2 separate regions of the Homo sapiens genome follow, and region 2 is linked to region 1. The links come from fine-mapping of genetic effects on gene expression. A gene starts in region 1. The other region holds a variant in brackets. All regions are shown on one strand. Distances are between the middles of the regions. Region 1 holds the start of DAAM2 (dishevelled associated activator of morphogenesis 2). Region 2 overlaps DAAM2 (dishevelled associated activator of morphogenesis 2).

The links. PIP is the estimated chance that this variant, and not a neighbour inherited with it, causes the effect.
Region 2: its variant is fine-mapped to the expression of DAAM2 in whole blood (TOPMed, PIP above 0.99).

Annotation. Positions count from the first base shown.
Region 1 is chr6:39,787,993-39,798,485 of GRCh38, forward strand. DAAM2 (dishevelled associated activator of morphogenesis 2) reads left to right here and starts at 4,384. Exons shown (of 25, transcript NM_001201427.2): 1 at 4,384-4,473.
Region 2 is chr6:39,821,681-39,832,173 of GRCh38, forward strand. The region is part of intron 1 of DAAM2 (dishevelled associated activator of morphogenesis 2); the gene reads left to right. Among named protein-coding and RNA genes, the nearest start is that of DAAM2, 35 kb to the left of the region's middle. RefSeq lists an enhancer at 2,480-3,040. The variant G/C (reference allele first, on the strand shown) is at 3,990.

The DNA.
Region 1 (10,493 bases):
AGAGAAGTGAAATGATGCTCTTACTTACAAGAGTCAGAGCTGGAATTAGAAACCAGGTTTTTCTCATGCCATATTCTGGGGTCATTTCTACCACATGACAATGAGGACCTAAAATATCTTCAAGTTGTTGGGACATGCAGTTCATGTTCTATTGATAAGTATGTACTTTCAGGAAGAAATTGTGGTAGCCATGGGCTTTTTCTCTCTTTAGCTGTATCCTTGGAAGTTACCGTGAGATAATAGAAGTCCAGGAGTCTTGTCCTGAACAGTGGAGGTTGTATCCCTTACTAGAAGTGACAGAAGCAGGATAGGCCCCAGGATCAGGCTCATGATCAAAATACCTGAAGTGTGATGTGTCTGTGCTGGATGGGGTCCAGTTCAAGACAAGTTGCTTCTGCCTTCTAGGCATTAACAGCACACCTGATAACAAAGTTTGACACCTCCCTGAACAGAGTCTAAGAGCCAGCAGATTGATACTGACCACATAAGTGGTAGGATGAAAAAGACTTTGAAATTTTGAGGCATCCTTTTCCTTCCAAGTTTCAGAAGAACTTATTGAGGTAGAGGCTTTCAATTTATTTTGCTTCATTTGAACTTTACAACAATACTTTAGGGTGGAATAATTTTCATCCCATGTTGTTGTTGAAGAACACTGTATTTTTTAGGATTCTCCTACTAATAGGAGATTCAGAGAAACAACCAACAGGATGTAGTATATGAATATTGAGAGAGAGAGAGACTGATTTTAAAGAATTGGCTTATGTAATTATGGAGGCCTGGTAGTCTAAAATCTGGAGGGTAGACCAGCAGGGGTAGGCCAGCAGGCTGGAGACCCAGGGAAGCATTGCAGTTGGAGTCCTGAGGCAGTCTGCTGGCACAGTTCCCTCTTGCGGGGTGGGGGTCAGTCTTTGTTCTATTAAGAATTTCAGTTGATTGCATGAGGCCTACCTACATTATGGAGGGTACTCAGCTTTACTCAAAGTCCACCAATTTAAATATTAATCTCATCCAAAACCACCTTCACAGAAGTATCCAGAATAATGCTTGATCAACTATCTGGGCACTGTGGCACAGCCAAGTTGACACATGAAGTTAACCATCACAAAAACTATGCTTGAGAAAGTTTCCTGCCATGCTGAGGTCACACAGCAGTGAGAGGCAGGGCTGGGATTTAACCAAGGTCTTTGGTTCAAACACTTGCTATAGTCCACAATAGTAAATCAGAGAAAGGTATATGTTATTTGCGGAGAGTCACATATTGATTAGATGACATATTCATGGGGCCTTCATTTATTCTTCAGAAAGTCTTTATGGAGTGCTATTGTGGTCCATGCTGTACTAGACTAGGATCTCTACCCCTGGAGAGTGAGCAAGTGACTTTTGTGAAGCCTGCTTCTTATCATGATAGGCTGGGCCTTGGAAGTATATAGTGAGCTTTGGAAGCCAGGTCAACCATAATGTGCTATTTGAGAATCTTTCATCAAGCAGGTACAATTTTCCAGATGAGTAGTGTGCTACAGAGGGCCTCACTGTATGTTCCGGGAACATTCCTAGAATATGCAGGTGAAGAAGGATGAAACCCCTTTCTTGGGAATCTTGAGAATAGGAGAGACTCCCACATTAGGACCCTGTGAGTGATAGGGCTGGGGGTAGGGAGTGAATCAGATGATCTTCGAGTGGGCCCTACTACTTCATGGACTCTTCAGGGCTTGCCAACCTCAAAAACAGCTCCTCAGCACTGACAGCCACGTATTTTATGAATTTCACTTGCTCCTCATCCCAATAGAACCCAATTAAGAATGCTTGGGGGCCAGGCGCAATGGCTCACACCTGTAATCCCAGCGCTTCGGCCTCTCGAGTTGAGAGAATTGCTTGAGACCAGGAATTTGAGATTAGCTTGGGAAACATAGCAAGACCACATCGCTACAAAAAAAAAAAAAAAAAAAAAAAAAAAAAAGGTTAGCAGGGCCTAGTGGCATGCACCTGTAGTCCCAGCTACTGGGAAGGCTGAGGTGGGAAAATCCCTTGAGCCCAGGAGTTCGAAGCTGTAGTGAGCTATCATCGTGCCACTGCACTCCAGCCTAGGTGACAGAGAGAGACCCTGCCTCCAAAACACTTGGGCAAGGATGGAGAGACTCCCCTCTCCCAGACCTAGAATGCTTGCTCCTCAGCCTCACTTCCCCTGTTTCTGTCCTCATGATGTCCCCAACCTGCCACCTCTGAGTCTCTGGCCCTATCTTTTTTTGTGTTTTTATTTATTTATTTATTTATTTATTTATTTATTTATTTATTTATTTTTTTGAGACGGAGTCTCGCTCTGTCGCCCAGGCTGGAGTGCAGTGGCGCAATCTCGGCTCACTGCAAGCTCCGCCTCCTAGGTTCACGCCATTCTCCTGCCTCAGCCTCCGAAGTAGCTGGGACTACAGGCGCCCACCACCACGCCTGGCTAATTTTTTGTATTTTTTAGTGGAGACGGGGTTTAACCGTGTTAGCCAGGATGGTCTCGATCTCCTGACCTCGTGGTCCGCCCGCCTCGGTCTCCCAAAGTGCTGGGAATACAGGCGTGAGCCACCGCGCCTGGCCAAATCTGATCTTCTCTTAAAGAGAGTTTGTGGAAGGCATCCTCTGTCTTCTGTATTACAATCTCACTGGTCAGAACTTGGTCTCATAGCAATTGTGAGCTACCAGGGAGTCTGGGATGGTGAATATTGTAGATTTCTAACTTCTTTAGTTGAGAAAGGCAAGGGAGAATGGGTTTGTCAATGGCTTCTGGAAACCTATTTGCAGGGTCTGCTGAAGAACAGAGCTCACCTTGCCAGTGGAGCCTTGATATGAGAGAGGGAATGGAAGGAGGTAAAAGTGGGGTATTATGCCAGGGAGAGCAATCCCACAGTGACCAAACAGCAGCTCCCTGCTGCAGGGCCCTCGGTGGCTTGGGTCAAAACAGCGTGGCCTCTACCGAGAGGCCCAGCCCTAAGACAGCTCCTTCTGGCAATCAGCTCTAACCAGCTGCTGCCAAAGAGGTAAACACATTCCAAGTCCTTGAGTCCCTGCTGCACTGTAACTGTGGTTAAAACACAACCCCGCCTCTACCAGTTTGGGCTAATGGAAAGTTCACTATAGTTGTGTTTTAATGATGATTTGCAATTATCCGTGCCCCCTCCCATTCATGGTGAGATGAATACCTAAACACTTATGTTGTCTAACCATATAAGTATTTTGCATCTCACGTGTATCATTTTAAGTTCATTTCATTCTCCAATCCTTGGGAACCATGAAGGATAACACATTACATTCTCTTTTTTTTTTTTTTTTCCTCTGGAAGATCATGCATTACATTCTCTTTTTTTCTCTGGAAGGGTGGCCCTTAAACCAAGCCATTTCCCTAAGCCCCTTTGGTGAGGTGGAGAAACAGACAACCACTAACACAGAACAACCACTGAACACCCAGAAAACTGTATACAGGTCATCACCCAGTGGGGGCACCATTTGCTTGCAGAGGGAGCTGGGGAAAATAGGAAACAGAGAAGATCAAATACTCCCCGTGAGGGTGTTGCCAATCCCAGAGAGGACAATTGCTCTTGACCAAAGCAATCTCTAGTTCAGTCAAGGAGACAGACCACAATCACATTTAAAAAAAAAAGAAAAAAAAAAACTAAAAGGAAATTTTAAAAGTATGAATAAGAGCTATTGTAAACTGCTCAAACTATGCATACAAGCAATGAAGTAAGATGAATTGACTGGCACTGAATTGGAAAAGCTATACAGAGGCAGGGAGTGTGGAACATAATTTAATAAAAATAAACTTAAAAAAATATATATACACTCCCAAAAAAGAAATGGAAAAGTTGTTAGGGCGTGGACCAGGACTCCTAATTAGCTGTTCTGTTGTGCCTGATTTCGCTCCTGTCTTGCCCAGCACCCCTTGGGACACACTGTCCAGTGCAGGGACACTTTGGGGAGGGACAGGGGATTCCTTGGCACCGGGACCTTCACCTCCGAGCCGGCCTCAGACCAGGCCATTTGCCCGTAGCCCAGAGGAGGAGCCGGGGAGAAACCCGCTGCCCAGGTGGCCACTTTTGCCTCTTTGACCCTTCCATGTTTCCAAAACAGAAGGGGCCCTGAGAACGCTCCCTGCCAAAGTGGGGAACAGCTACCCTCATTGTACGCCTCGCCCTGCCGGTGGCGCTCTCCCCCCGCCTGCGTTCGGTCTGAAAGTGTGAAAATTACAAATCCCAAGAAACTGCAATCAGAAGTCTACCTAGGGAAAATTCAGAGTAACCTTGCCATAAATATCCCGCTCCAAGACGCCTGACGTCAGAGCGGGGCGGGCGGACGGGCGCGAGGCCGGGCCTGGAGGGGCGGCAGCCGCGGCTTCCCGGGGATAGCGCGGAGCACGCAGCAGCGAGCGGAGCGCGGGCGGCGGCGCCGTACCTCGGGCTGCGGGAGCGCGGGCGCCCTGGGGTCCTCGGAGTAAGTGCGGCCGGCCCTGGCGCTCCCCGTCTTGGGGCCCGGGCCGCGGGGAGCCCTCTCCGCTGGGCTCCCACACTTCTCTCCCTCTGCTTTCTTTAGCATGCCCCGCGGGGCTTGGGGAGGCAGCAGCTCCGCAGGCTGGCGGTTTTGTTTCTCCAAAGTGTTTGCAGGAGCCGCCGACCCCGGAGTGGGCTCCCAGGGCCTGTGTGTGTGTGAGTTGTGTGTGTGTATGAGTGTGATTGCGTGTGTCTGTACTGGCACATCTGGACATAGGAAATGTCTTTGGAAAACTTTTTAAAAATGTTTTTTGCGGCTTTGAAACCTGACCCCTGGTTGTCACAAGTGGACAAACACAGAAGATACCCCGCAAAACTGACAACTTTTTGGTGGTGGCTTTTCCGGGTTCGGCTTGAACCTTCACTTGGCTGGGCTGAAGTCTTCACAAGCCCCCAGCTCCCACTTGCAGGCCTGGCCTCTGGCCAGTGGGCAGGGCAGCCGTAAGGTTCTTGTTCTCAGTGGCAGTGGGACCCTGGGCGGGGGAAGGAGCATCTCAGGAAAGGGGTCCCCGGACTCTGGGGCTCTCAGCACCTGCGGTCGCAAACCAACCTCATGCCCTGACTTTACCAGGCGTCGGGACTCTGACTTAACCGGGGAATGAGGGACTTGGTCTGGCGGCAGGTAATTTTGTGAAGAGGATGAGAAGGAAGAGGGGGAGGTGGTGGTGATGGCCAGGACGCTGTGGCCCTGTGTCCAGCCGTAGCTTGGGAGTGGGATGGTTGGTTCTGCCACATGGCCACGGTGAGGTACGTGCCAGGTTCTCCAGGAGTGCCGCGTGTGGTGCCCCAAACAAGATGCAAGCTCCTAACATAAAGAGACGTGTCTGAGCTGTGGGGTGGAGGAAGGGGGGCGGTGGGGGAGAGGGAGATTTTTATCAAAATTGAACACAGATTGCTGAGATCTGGGCTTGATTTAACTCTTCTCTCTCTGCCTCGGCCACTTCTCCACAGTTTTGGAGTGGATTTGGAACGTTTCTCGGAGGGTTAGAGGAAAATCACACCTCTCCGGAAAAGAGTCCCCATAGGTTTTCCCTTGATGCCCACGTGGGAATGAAAGCAGCTTCCCATCTTTAAAAAGTTCAAAGTCTTGTGTTTTCCCCCTTCTGAGTTTGGTGTTAGTTTCCTGAGTTTCTTTGCAAAGCCAGCTGAAGCGGGGGATGGATTTTCCCTAGGGCCTAGGGCGGAAAGTGTGCTCCACGGAGAGTAGGGGAAAAAAGCAGCAGTGAGGCTGTATCGATCCATCATCCCTGAGTAGCACAGTGCCAGGCACTGCCTGTCAATAGCTGGGTTCCACAAACGAGTGACCACAGACAGACTGAATTTTCAGCTTTGAGCTAGCCAGGTCTCTGGTTTTGTATTTTGCAGTAGAGCCAACCTACAATGTCTGGGTGGGAGGAAGATTACTGGACTCTCCCTCTGTCCTAGAAAAATGAGAAAATGAAGGGACAGGGAGGAAATCTGGATGTAAAAACAGACCCACAGGAAGTTAAGATTCAGGAAGGATTTTAGAAATTATATAAATTGAACCCCAGGGAAGCTCCATAAAAGATGGAGCAGGCAGCAATGTCAGAAACAGACTCATTTAACTTCAGGAGTACGTTGTCAACTGAAGTGTAATGAAGGAGGAGGAAATCATCCCATAGGCAATGTAAACAAGGGTGCATGTAAACAGGAGTGACTGGTCCCCATGAGATGCACATGCCTATGTGTTTTTACACATACATGACTGTGTGGTGATGGCCATGGCCTTAGACATGGGAGGATAAATGGTCTATTTCTTCATCTGTGCTGGGAACTCCATCTAACCCCCATTTCTTCCTTTATGCAAACAACTGTGCTATTATTGTCTTGCTCCCTGGTAGTTGCAAACTCTGGCTCCTAACTCCCAGCTGAGTTTTCAGAGCTTTTCCTCCAGCGCCTCGGATGCTGAGGGAATACTCGTGCCCCCATCAGGACAAAAAGAGGAGAGAACATTCTCCTGGGCATTAGAACTTAGAGAGTCAGGGGCTCAAGAAGGCGGAGGCTGTGCAGGCAAGACCAATAGGAAGGCCTGTAAATGATTTTGTTTTTGGTGAGCGTGGAGGAAGTTGAAATACTACTGCTTGCTGTGAGAACATGTTCTCTCCCCAGTCTTCTTTCCCGACTGTCTCCAAAGTTTTTGATGCAAAACAGATTAAACTCCCCATTACTAAAGAGCCTTGGATCCAGGTGTAAAGAATGAAGATAAAGGGTAAGTACAGGCAGTAGAGAAAGCATAGAGATAATGAAAGATGAGGCTTTCTTATTTGATTTTACTAGAGCCAATGGAAGTAACAAGTTTAAATGTTCTCATTCATTTCCATTATTTAAACATAGAAGACTACCCAGGGACAGAAGGGACCCCTCGGAACAGGATTCCCAGAAATACTCTTATCCCAGCATACAACTCCTCAGGGACAGGTGAGGGGCAAGAACTGGGTTTTCAACTCTTTCTACATGTGGGGTTTCTGGGAGTGCTGCATGTGGGATCAGTGGAGTCCTGATGCTTCTGGGCTTGTACTAGGAGACATTTCACTATGGCCGGGATGAATTCCCAGGCCATGGATGCCTAGGCTGACATTGAAGCCTTCTCATGGCTCATTCTATCAGTTCAATCTTCTGGCCAGCTCTTTGGTCATCTTTGAGATTAGATTAAGTAGATGGGATGCATTCCAAGACATCCTTGAAGGTCCAGAGGGCAAACACAGCTGGCAGAAAGAACAAGTTGAAGGATATCCTTGGCTTTGATAGCGGATGACCCTCTAGATCTCAACAGCCAGAGACTCTGTCAAGGATCCTGTGTCATTCAGCCCTAGACTTCAGAGGCAGCCCGACAACAATGGAAAGAGTGCAGATTTCTGATCAGCTGCCTGGAGAGAGAGAACTGTGACCTAAATACGAATTAGTAACCTGGGCTACATGACTTATTCCTTCTGAGCTTCAGCTTCCTCATCTGTAAAATAAGGATAGTATTTCCCTCCCCAGGTCATTATGAAAACATTTATGCACAAGAACTAAGAACAGAGCTCAGAATGTTATAAGACCCTTCATAAAGGGAGTGCTGTATTTTTATTTTTCAGTTTTTCAGCCATCACAAGCCAGTATTGCTTGGAAAGAACCTCTCCCCAAATCTAGCTACATATTTTCCATGATTGAAGGCTAGTGGGTGGAGTTTCTAGGGCTCTGATCATCCTTACTTCCTTCCTCTAGAAAAGGTGACCAATGAAGATATTCCATGAGCATCCCTGGTCCATTATCCTGAAGTGTGGGAGAAGAAACCAGGGATCCTGGATGTCTGGCCTAGAAATCACTCTTGTGTTTGTGCTCTTTAGGGAGGGAGAAGGACAGAAGAGCAGGTTGTATAAGTATGGTGGGGAGGGGAAAGGTAGGGAGGTGGGGGTAGGGCAGGAGGGTCAAGGACCAATTGGATCTTGAAGGACAAGCCTGAGTCAGAGAGCGGGTAGGCAGCCACTCCTTGTCAAGGGTGCTCAGGTCAGAGTAATGGGGGAATCTGATGGGTTGTAAAGAATGAAAGCTTTAGTCATTGCAAACATCTCCAGTGGGTATGGGGTGGGAGGCTGCCCCCTGAACCCTGATTGATACATTATCCAAGGGAGTGACTACTCCAAAGGAACAAAGGAACATCTGATGTTAGAGAGCAGCTGCAGGTCCTCTTGGCCCATCTCAAAGCTTGTAAGTTATCCTTCAAGTTGACATTTAAGATTTTGAAGATCACATTTGTTTTTGTTTTGTTCAAGCTCTCTCTTTAACCATGGCCTGGGATGACTTTTAAGCTTTTAAGAGGCTCAACCAGTGGTCAACTTCTCTTGAGATGGCCCAGAGCGGGGGTCAGTGAATTCCTCACTCTTGGCAGCATCTATTTCTCCAACTCTCTCCACATTTTTTGGTTTGTTTTTTGTTTCATTATGAGGTTCTAAAACTGCACAGTCAAGATGCTGTGGGGGGAGGAAGTAAGTGCCTGTTCTTGGAACCTGTGCAGCGTTATGCTAGCACTGGCCAAGACTTATCAGACTATGGTTATTAATAGGTGTTATGGGTTTCTTTCTGGGGTCCCCCTCCAAAAAAAAAAAAAAAAAAAAAACCTGTAAAAAAAAAATGAACTTTAGGCAGTTTGATGTCTCTTTCAATCCTGGCCAAAGAGGAGCTGAATTATTTGTGGTACATCCTATGGTTCCAAGGAAGAGCTTTAGAATCAAGCAGACAGAGATTTGAGTTCTGGCACCACCAGGTCACAAGCTTGCTAACCTCTCTGAGTCTTCTTTATCTGTTAAATGAGAACAATAACTATTCTCATTCCCCAGGGTTGTTCTGAAAATGAAATGGAATGATATAAGGGAAGAAGCTAGCAAACTGCTCAGTAAAATGTTAATGCCATTCCCCTCTCCAGTTCTAAGTCCGTGAAAATACATGGGTTTAGACATTTGTCCACAGGTCAAAGTAAATAAGCCACTTATTCAAGGATTAACAACTGTGCTTGGAGGTCAGATATCTCAGCCTGGAGATGGAGACCCTTTATACAAAAGTGGGGCACAGAACAGTGCTCCCCATGCCAAGCAAATGGCAGCCCCATGTGACCCTCTATTGGAATAAAGGAAAGGCCACTAGCTCACTCACCCATGAATTTGGGCTATTTAGTGAGCTCTCCATAGAGCTTGTTTAAAAAGCTCAAATACTGTCCTGAGAATCAAGGTCAAACTGAGGACAGAAATCATTGAGGCAGTACCTAACATTAAAATCTAATAATGATGTCACAATGACAGCAGTATTTTAAATTTATATAACATTGTATCATTTGAAAGGTACATTGTCTCATTTAAACATCGTTGACAATCATATGAGATTGATATTAACCACATTTCACAGCCCAAATTCTGAGGACTTAAAAAACTTACCATATTTCACACCTTAAGTAAGTGGAATAAACAGAAAACAAACTGTTCCCCAAGCAGTGGGTCTCAACCCTGGCTGCACATTAGAACCACTTGGGGGAGCTTGTAAAAGTATCAATGCTTGGGCCCACCCCAGATCAATTTAATTAGACTCCTTGGGAATGGAACCTAGGCGTCCACAGTTCTGTAAGCTTCCCAGGTGATCTGAAGTCTAAGCTGAGAATCACTGGTCTAAGAGGAGTGAAAAGCACCAAAGTTAGGACCCAGGATACCAGGCATGGGAAAAAGAAACAGCCAAGACTTTGCTAGGATTTAAGCCCTATGAGGGTGCAGACTTCGTATGGTTCTCCCTGTATCCCTGGAGCCTAGGAGAGTGCCAGCTACAAGGTAAGTGCTCAATAAACATTGGGTAGATGAACAAATGAACAAGATACCATAGATTAGAAGTTGTCAATTTCAACAGTGAAACCCAGCTTGTCATCTTGTTTTATAGATAAAGTTTTATTGGAACACAGCCATCTCTGTTCATTTGTGCTTTGCCTATGGCTGCTTTCGTGCTGCAATGGCAGAGTTGAGTAGATGTGACAGAGACTGCATGGCCTACAAAGCTGAAAACATTTACCATCTAGCATTTCACAGGAAAGGTTTGCTGGCTCCTGCTCTGGATCCCAGACATGAACAGAGCAAGTATAGTAGCTTAGGGAAGGTCATTACTGCATGGTTGTTAAGAATATGGGTTCTAGAATCAGATAAACCTATGTATGATTCCTGGAACACTTACCTATTAAAAGAGCTTGCAAATTATTTCACCTTTCTGATTCTCAGTTTTCGCATCTGAAAAGTGGGGATGATAATAAAATACCTCCCTCATAGGATGACTGTGAGGGTTGTCAGCCCCTGGCGGAGAGTAACATTAGCTATAGCTATGGTAGTTGCTGTAGTTACTAGCAATCAGCCACATAGAGAACTAACTAGACAAAAGTCAAAATCTAAATCCAGTATCACAAGGTAGATCAAGGGATGAAGTAGGAAAAAA
Region 2 (10,493 bases), 34 kb after region 1:
GCAGGGAGCTGGGGGTTGACATCTGAACATAGCTGGAGCCTGGCCCAAGGAGTGAAGATCCGGGAGGGGCAGATGTCAGATTTCTCCCTCATTTGGGAAAAACAAAGTGTGGTCAGTGAGTGCTGTTTGTGAAGATGCCAGAGACCAGTGACATTTGCAGCCTGAGGGTGAAATGAGTGACCCTGTGAGTGTATCTCAGGAGGAGACTTGGACCAATTCCTCTTCTTCCTATAGGGTCAGGGGACAGACCAGGCCTGGGCCCCAAGAAATCTGCGTTGTCTCCTTGGATTGAGGCAGCTGCCCATGAGCAGCAGCGGACAGTGTCGTAGTGGGAGGAGGCAGGTCTGCCAAGGGCAGGGAAGAATGGAGGGCCTGTTACTGCTGAAGCCTGGGAACGCTGCCTGGGGGGAGGCCCACGCTCCCCAGAGCTGGAGTGAGAAGGAATGGGAGGAGAAGTCTATGCAGCAGGGGGATGGGCTCAGCCAGCATCCCCACCCTCTGCAGAGCAAATGCCCCCGTCCCATTTCCTGTGGCATGGACACAGGTGAGCTTCCTGGCCTTGAATGCTCAGGTACAGTTTGGAGGGCTGGGGTCTGTTACAAAGAGGTGGCCTCCCATGGAGGAAGCAGGAAATGCTAGAAGCCTCAGCCCCTGGCACTCACCCGAGGGTTTCCAAATCAGAGACACTTTCTGCTAAATTATGCTTCAACAGATGTTTTCTGTGTTCCTACTTGTGCCAGGCTTTGTGCTGGGGATTTACCAAAATATAATATGGCATGGTGGAATTGGGAAGGTGTGCAGAGCTGGAAAGATATTTTGGATGTGAGATTAAAGCCATTTTTGAAAAGTAACAATAATAGTTACCATTTATTCTGTACCTTGAATGCACCAATCACTCTGCTAAAGGCTTTGCATCTCCTTTAATTCTTGCAGTAGTTTATTGACTTGTGACTAATTTTGTAGATTTCAAAGATTAAGAAACTAAGGCTCAGAGATTAAGGACCTTTCCTTAAAGATGCAGGGCTGGTAAATGGCAAAGCCAGGATGAACCTCTTAAGTCGTCTAACCATTTATTCATTTGTGTGTTCAACAAAGTTGAATTGCTGGCCTACTGTGTGACAGCCATTGTAGAGGGCACTCAGGACACAGCTGGGACAGGGAAGGGTCCAGGGCAGCCTAACTCCATAGCCTGGGTCCTCACCCCCAGCCAGAGCCCTTCACACTGGGCCCCAGAGACCCCTGGGAACATTGTGTGATTGTTTTCTCCAAGGTCTGAGACTCTGCTTGAGAATGTGCTTTTCCTTGAGAAATGTTTCTTTGTTTTCATTTTAATAATAATACTGTAAAAATTGGAGGCATTTATTCTGAATCATCTGAATGACCACCATATAACCTACTATTGGCATGCGATTTTAGTCCCCAGGTTTGTGTTTCTGTGCAAGTTGGCACCGAGTGGTTTCCTAAAATGATAGTTTTTAACTTTCAATGCTTTGTTTCTCAAACTGGGCTCTACACTGTGTGCTTCAAAGGCCCAAAGATTAAGAAAGGCTACATCGACAGATTCTACTGCAGGAAGGGAGATGTGCAGTATGGGTGTCCCAAGAGGAAATGGTTCAACATCCTCCTCTCCTGGGGGGTGAAGAAAACTGAGGAGTTCAGGTTGGGGCAAAGCAGCTTGGGGGTTCTGAATCTTCCAACCTGCTGGTCTCCAAGCTCAGGATGGACCTAGGCCAGAGACTCAGAGAGGAACAGGCAAGTCAGGAAAAACGAAGACTCTTGAGTTCAGATTGGTGTGCTCTGCTCTGACATAGCATCTCTGACCTCAAGCAAACTTGCTCCTTTCTGGGCCTTTGCAGATGGGACGACTTGTGCCGGGAAGGGGGAAGTGTGGGGCCTCCCTGGAACACTGTGTGACTTCCTCCCAAAGAGGGATGTTTTGTGGTCATTCAGAACTTCTGACCTTTCCTGAGGCCCAGCTGTTAGGTGAGAAGGCCATCGCATGATCCCTGGTGTACAGAACTGTGCATGTGACTTGTGCCTCACCACCCTGGGGGCATCCAGGGCTGTATCATGCTAGCCTGGTGCTTTGGCCCTTAGATGGGGCTGGGCAATCAGCATCCTTTCTGGATCGGATGTCCTGCCAGTCTTGGAGGCTGGAGGCAGGAGACTGAGGACCCCTGCCTCTCCATCCTCTTCCACCTCCTTTCCCTCCTCCCCCTGCTGGGGTTTTGGGTCTTGCTGTCATCTCTGCTTTTGAATGATGCTCCATTGTATCTCCACTCTCTGGTTACTGTCCCTCAGCTGGGCCCTGGGTGGTCATTCTGGTCGTCTTTTCTCCAGACTCCACTCTACCCTCTTCTGTCTTGTACATTAGGAGTCAGTGAACATTATCTGCAAAGGTCTTGATAGTAAATATTTCAGCTCTGGGGGCCTTCTGTGCTACACATTAGTAATTTGTTCCTAATTTTATCTCCTCAAGCGCAGGAGTCAATAGAACTTGGCTATCTCTGCAGCCTCCCCCGCCCCCAGTTCTGTGCCTGCTGGGCAGTAGGCACTCAGGAAGTATTGCTGGCATAAATCCCAATGACCTCTCCCCATCCCCCTAGAGCCCGTGCCCCAGCAGGGGGCATCTTGGGGTCTAGCTGTACCATTTTGGGAAATCAGGATCTGGTCACCTGTTGGTTGCTGTGGCATCCTGTAGCTAAATCCATCTCTGGCCCTGTAACCTGAACCTGCCCCAGGCCCTGTGCTCCAGGATCAAGTGTCCCTGTTTGTTTTGACATCCCCTGTGGGGCGTTAGAGATCCAGATTTCAAAGCAAGATTTTTTTCTAGCAGCGGTTGAAGGCCAGGCCCCTGCCAGCTCCTGGGCTCCCATGTTAGCATTTTCAGTTAATTAAGAAAACAAACCCCACATCCTTGACAGAGGTGGTTCTGCCAATTCAGGACAGAGAACTTTGCATCAGCATAGCATGCAGGAGAAGCTGGCCAGCTCCTGCAGGCAGGACAAGCTGAGGGAGGCAGATGTTTGAGCTGGAGAGGACCCACTGGTGCCTTCTCGGCAAGAGCAGGTTCCGCGGAAGTCGCATGGTTGGGAAGCCAGCTCCAGGCAAGGTCCAGAGCATGGAATTTCTGTTCCTCTTTCCCCATCCAGGGTGCATTTATCATGGGTGAGGGCCATGGGGAAAGGCCAGCTGGATGAGAATAGCAGGGGGAGACACAAATACTTTCTTGGGACTTGCCAGTCTTCCTCTCCAGAGCCAGGTTATCCCAACTGTCTAACTCCTGGAGGAGAATGATGAGAGGTGACCTGGGGTGGCTTCAGAGGGGCCCAGGTAGCTGACCTGCCAGCTGCCAAGAAGGAGCCTGATCAGAGAGGCTGCTTAGCCATGCAGGGCCTGGATGTGAATTTAAGAAGGGTCTTTGTCAGGCTGGGTGCGGTGGCTCACGCCTGTAATCTCAGCACTTTGGGAGGCCAAGGCAGGAAGATCACCTGAGGTCAGGAGTCTGAAACCAGCCTGGCGGACATGGGGAAACGCTCTCTCTACTAAAAATACAAAAATTAGCCAGGCATGGTGGTGTGCGCCTGTAGTTTCAGCTACTCAGGAGGCTGAGGCAGGATAATGCTTGAACCCGGGAGGTGGAGGTTGCAGCGAACTGAGATTGCGCCACTGCACTCCAGCTGGGTGACAGAGCAAGACTGTTTAAAACAAAACAAAACAAAACAAAACAAAACAAAACAAAACAAAACACAAGGTCGGGGGGTTGGTGGGGGGCCTTTGTTTCTTGAAGGAAACATAGTTAAGCATACTCCTGTAAAGTAGCCCAGCTCTGCCAGTGTGTGTGTGTTGGGGGGCACTTTCCTGAGCCTGGCTGTGCATTCACTCACAGAATCACCCTGTCACCTGATCACACACCCTCTCCATCGTACCAGGGATAAGATATGTCCTTCCCCTGCTCCCACCGTGGCTGTGATTGGGCAGGTGGGAAT[G/C]GGGGGAGTCAAGGGAGCATAGGTGGGACTGGCTTTCTGCACCCCGATATCTGTACTGAGTGTACTGAGTGTACTCTTTCCCAGGTGTACAAGCCCTGCAGGCAGGGTGGGCTCATGTATCTCCTTGGATGTGGGATTCTCTTGCAGTTCACAGCCTGCACACTACATGCAGTGGTCCTTGTACCTCTTGGGTAGAATGGAATTGGAGGGAGACCCAGTCCTGCTCTATCATTGCTAAATGGCCCAGCACACATTATTTGGGCTTTGTGAATCTCTTAATTTCTAATGGGAAATGGGAATGAGGTTCACATTTTATGTGTCCCCATGGTGCAGGTGTGTTGGCAAATATGAGATAAGGCGTATTTCATGCCTAGTGCAGTGAACCTGGCCTCCTTCCCCATTGGACATGTGTCTTGGTCCAGCTTCTGCCTGCTGGCTTGGGATGTGGCTGCCTTAAAAGATAGTGGGGAGAAATGATAAACACACGGCTGGCATCTTCTCAGCTTAGGAGAAGAGCCCTGGGGAAGAAGCGATTGTGCGGCCTGCTCCTGGTCTCTGGTATAACTAGTTCAAATAACTGCCAGTTAGTAGCAGATTTTTTTTTTATTTTACTTTCGAGGGTCTTCTCCTTACCTGCTGGAACTCTCTGGGCTCCCTGCCATGAGTACTTTGTCATTCACAGCACAATCCCAAAGTGAGGGGCTGGGGCTATTCTAGGAAAGCAAGTCTCTTAAAAGGTGAGCATCCCTGTGGTGTCCTAAAGCTGGGGAGAAGCCACTTAGGGTTTTGGGGGACTCTCGACTCCTTCTCTTTCTCTCTTTTTCATTTCCAGTGGAATCCTCAGGTGATCGGTTGTGTAGCTGATATGCCCAATAGCTCCCCTTTCCTGGAGAACATATCCAATTTGCCTCACGATCCTCCTGAAATTCTTGAATCCCTGGACACCAGGCTAGTTTGTTTGCTTTTCTCCTTTTGCCAGTGATTTTTTTCACTTCATATTAGGACTGTTTGCACACAAAAATTAAGAAAAATGTACATAAAAAATCAGATGTGAAATGTGAAAAAGCATACTAATGGTAGGCAAATAATAATAATTAGTATGCATAGTCACAGGTTTCTGTAACTTCAACTTGGCAAATCCAAATGTCTTGGAATGACTGTCAGGAGCACCTTCTCTTTTTAAAGAGAAGTTTCTAAGTACCCTTCAAGCTTCAAAGAGAAAATCTGAGGTGAGGAAATCAGGAGAAGTTGGGAATCAGTTTCCTGGAGTATTTGAGAATATTTAAAGAGAGAGGCGGTGTAGCTTGGATCCTAGCAGGGCTCACAATATTTAGGGGAAATATTCATGAATGAATCTTGGCTAAGATTTTTGGAATTTTTAATTTTTGTTTTTATATTGCATTTTTGTAGTTGTTGTTTCCACTTAAGTAGAAACTCAGGAGAAACCAGGAAGCAAAGCAGAATTTGTCTGCGACTGTTCTGTAGTGGGAGAGAAGAGTTCTGTGCTGTGAATTCGAAAATTGGGTTCTAGACATGGCTGTGGCATGAGTTTGCTGTGGGTCCTGAGGCAAGTAGCCTGCTTCTTGGGCCTCAGTTTCTCGCCTGTAAAGCGGTCTTTAAATGGTAGTACCTTCATTCTCAACGTCTTGTGCATGCCAGCAGCTGTATGAGGGGCGTCCTGCAGATCATGTCGGAGAAAGGAGGAGTTGAGTCCATTTGCACACAGGTGGGGAGTGTGACATCTCAAGAGGGGAAGGCACAGCTATCCAGGAGCTGAAGTGGGGCGGGGGTAGTCTTTTTCAGAGTCTGATTATTGGGTCTGGGTTTGTGGAATGGTGCTTCACCACCCCAGGGAATGGTGGCCCTCACTCACGCCTTGGCTCTGTGTGTGTGGGCTCATGGAGGTGCCCCCGGGCCTGGTAGGATGCAGGGGCCTGGGCTTCAGAAACAGTGGCTGGAGGATTCTCCCTGACTCTTTTCCTTGGGGTCCTCATGCCTGGATTACTCTTCAGGGTCTCTGTCTTTGTGTGAAGTGTGATACCCCTTGACCCCCTTGGTCTGAGAATGAACTCTCTTAATGGACCAAAGGGGAATCTGGAAAATCACAAACCCAGTTTCAGAATTCAAGGGGTATAGTCCCTTCATGTCTGAGCCCTGGAGTACTTCTTGGGTCATCTTGCCAGCTGCCCAAGCTCTGCCTGCCCTGCCGCTCACACTTCTAACTCCTGCCCTCCCTGCTACCTGAAGGCTCATACCTGGGGAACGCCTCGCTGTCCTTGGAGACTCAGCCCAAAAATCACCACACCTACAAAGTCTCTCTAACGCCTCCTCCTCCCCACCAATTTCAGGTAGTAGGGTTCCCTCTCACCTGTGCTCCCACAGGCCTGTCCCTGATGAAGCACTGAGCACAATGTTTGAAAACCACTGTTCTGTCTGACTCTCGCTAGACTATTAGCTTCCAGAATGCAAAGCCCTGACTGGTTCAGTTTTGCATTTCTAGTATGTCTTAGTCCATTTGTGCCAATATTCCACACACTGGGTAATTTATAAACCAAAACAACATTTCTCATGGTTCTGGACTTTGGGAAGTGCAAGATCAAGGTGCCAGCAGAGTTGTTGTCTGGTGAGGGCTGCCCTCTGCTCCTAAGGTGGTGTTTTGTTGCTTCTTAATGAAAAACTGTAAAGAGCATAGGTACTCCTTGCATTTTTGCTATTCATTCATGCAGCCAATATTTAATAAGGACCTACTATGCATTAGCCCTTGCCAGTGGAACTATGCTATAGTTTGCATGTCTGTGTTCCTTTCCTTCCTCTGGAGGGGAAGAACACTGTGTCCTTACATGACAGAAGGAATGGAAGGGCTAAAAGGGCCTAAGCTAATTCCCTCCACCCCCCTCCGTCTTTTTTTTTTTGAGACGGATTCTTGCTCTGTCGCCAGGCTGGAGTGCAATGGTGCGATCTCAGCTCACTGCAGCCTCTGCCTCCCGGGTTCAAGTGATTCTCCTTCCTCAGCCTCCCGGGTAGCTGGGACTACAGGTGCGTGCCACCATGCCCGGCTAATTTTTGTATTTTTGGTAGAGACGGGGTTTCACCATGTTGGCCTGGATGGTGTTGATCTCCTGACCTTGTGATCTGCCCGCCTCTGCCTCCCGCCTTTTTATAATGCACTAATCCATTCATGAAGGTAGAGCCATCATGACTTAATCACTTCCCAAAAGGCCCCACCCTTAGTATTATTGCAACAAAGATTAAGTTTCAACATATGCATTTTGGAGGGAACACAGACATGCAAACCATAGCACAGTTCCACTAGCAGGGGCTAACGCATAGTAGGTCCTTATTAAATATTGGCTGCATGAATGAATAGCAGAGATGCAAGGAGAATTTATGCTCTCTACAGTTTTTCTTTAAGAAAGAAGCAAGAATGGTTACTGTTTGGATAATTCACCCAGGGACCAGCTTCACGGGATGCTGTTTAAACAGATAAATCCAATTGGCATCTCTTCTTTGTATACTTTTGTTGATGGCAGGGGCCTGGGGAGCGGGCTGTGTGTTCCACACAGGGTGTGTGGATGGGCCTGCACATGCGCCTATGACTGGTTGTGGGTAGCAAGCACAGAATGATCCTGTTTTTCTGTAAATACTGAGCCACAAACATTGGCAGTGACTTTCTGGCCATTATCCTCAGTGGTGTGTGATTCTTGCGGCTTTTCCCAGGGTGTACCAAAGGAGTGTGACTGTGGTGACCATCGATGGGGAGGCTGGCAGCACTCAGGGTGATGGACAGAACCCCATGGTTGGTTCCCTCTTAAGAGGCTTGTGTTGGAGGCTGAGTGATACCTCATTTGGCACCAGTTGGAGAGTTTATAGCCTGTGAGGGTTCTTACACTTACCAAGAGGAAATTGGGCAATAGAAATTTATGTTAATGTCTGTGGGATAACAAAAAAGCAACATGTCCCTGGGTCAGTAGTGATCTTACCTTCAGGGGTTTGTTTATTCATTGGCACACTCAGACATTTCTACTCAGTGCCTGCCATATATGCCTGTCCTCATTCTAGGGATGCAGACTGAACCTGGTCCCTGCCCTCAGAGGGCTTAGTTTCTGGTAAAAGTGCTTGAAGATTGGGAGGATGGGAGTTGAAGCTGGCACCCTCCCCAGAGCCGTTCTGAGCCGGCCCCTTGGTGGGAAATATCATTTCTCCATTTATTAGCTCCTCTGTTCTCCCCCAAGTTGTTGCTGGCCAGAAGCACCTTGGTACCACCCTTCTAGATTTCTCATGCTCCCTCCTTCCCCACGCTGAGTTAGAGACCCTTCATCCATACTCTCATCATTCCCTGTACAGCTCCACCAAGATACTTCTGCCCACTACCCCGGCCTGCTCACATTTGTACCCCCTTTCCGACTGGGAGATTTTTACAATCAGGTCTGTGTTTTATTCACTGCCGCATCCTACAGTGCACAGTGTCTGGCCCAGAGTGGGGGTTCATAGATGGTTGTGGAGTGGATGCCCATGGGGCAATGCTGGACTGCATTTATTTCATCTTCAGCATTCACACTGAAGCCTGTGTCTATCTATTTTCATCTTTTTCTGGGTCCGTCATGGAGAGGCATGACTCTCAGAGAAGTTGCTGAAAAGCTGGGGCATTGCGAGAAATTGGAGAAATCTGGGAAGCCACAGGCTGGAGTCGCTGGGGTCCGGTGAGTCCTCTGTGACTGTCATTCCACGCACTCCCTCCCAGGGAGGGAGGCAGGTGGGCTTCAGGGCTGACAGAGTGGGGCTCTGAGTCCAGACTGTGCTTGTGCTGAGGCCTGCGTCTTCTTCATCGTGAGTGGGGACAAGTGATGCTGACAGACAGACCTACCCCTGTGGCCCTCCGGCTCAGGCAGTGCAGCTGGGCCAGCAGGAGAGAGGGCCGCCTGGGAATAGCTGGGAAGCAAGTCCAGGCCTTGGGCCCACCTCCCCCAAGGCCAGGATGTGGCGTGGGACCCAGGCCTGCGGAGGTTCCCACCACTCTGCTCCTGCACTCCCAAATGCTCCAGGCCCAGGCAGCAGGAGGGGGTGGCGAGGGGCTCCAGCTGCCTGGGTCAAGACTGCATCAGGACCAGGGCAGCTCTGCAGGCACACACCTCTGACATTTAGCCTCCACCTGGATAGCTGCCAGTGGCCCTGCAGTCCGGACCAGCTTTGCATGGGGGAGGAGAGTCAGGGATTAACCATTTCAGGCCCTTCCTCCATCAGGCAGAAACTGGTCCTCTCAGGTCGACCATGTACCAAGGACCGGAGTGGGCATATTTACAAATGTTGCCTCATTTAATCTTCACATCAACGTGAGGGTGTGGGCATCATCTCCATTTCTCAGATGAGTAAACTAAGGCATGTGGGGAGTTATGTAACTTGCCTAAGTCTACACAGTTAGTAAGTTTCATATATTCCTTCTTTATTACAAGGGCCTATTATGTACCAGGTAGTAATTCTAGTCACTGCGGATACAGCAATGAATGATAGACAAAAATGCCCCATGGAATATACATTCTTGTGGGAGGGATAATGAATACATGGGATGTATAGTCTGTCAGGTGGTGGTAAGTCTACGTGGAAAATGAAGGGAAGGGAGATGGGAGGTGCTGGGAGCGGGGCTGCTATTTCAGATGCCCTTGAAAGACCTCACTGAGAGGGTGTGAGTTATTCACACTTAGTGCTGAATAGGTGCCTGGTGCTACCCTAATCACTGTACCTGACTCACTAAATTAATCCCCACAATTAATCCCCACAATCTTTGAGGCAGATTACTATTATTATTCTCATTTTCACATGGGGAAACTGAGGCACAGGGAGGTTAAGTAACTTGCCAAAGATGACACAGCAGATAAGAAGCAGCTCTAGGATTTGCACCCAGGAAGTCTAACTCCTGAGTTCTGGCTCTTAACCTCTGTGTGGCCTCTGCCAGGGCCACAAAGACAGTAAATGGGTGGGAAGGTCAAGAGGCTTGTAAGACCCCACCTGAACAGTCCAGGTCTGTGGCCTGGGGGGTAGGCACGCTGAGGGACAGGTGCACTAGGGGGCAGGTGCACTGTGGGGACAGGAGCACTGGGGAGGCAGGTGTACTGAGGGGGCAGGTGCACTGGGGGGGGGCAGGTGCAGTGCAGGGACCAGAGCACTGGGGGGTAGGTGCACTGGGGAGGCAGGTGTACCGAGGGGGCAGTTGTACTGAGGGGGCAGGTGCACTGGGGGGCAGGTGCACTGAAGGGGCAGATGCAGTGCGAGGGCCGGGGCACTGGAGGGTAGGTGCACTGGGGGGGTAGGTGCACTGGGGGGTAGGTGCACTGGGGAGGCAGGTATACTGGAGGGACAGGTGCACTGGGGGCGCAGGTACACTGCGGGGACAGGTGTACTGAGGGAGTAGGTGCACTGGGGGAACAGGTGTACTGGGGGGACAGGTACGCTAGGGAGGCAGGTGCACTGGTGCTCACTCCTCTGCAGCTCCCTTGGTGAGGAAAGGGT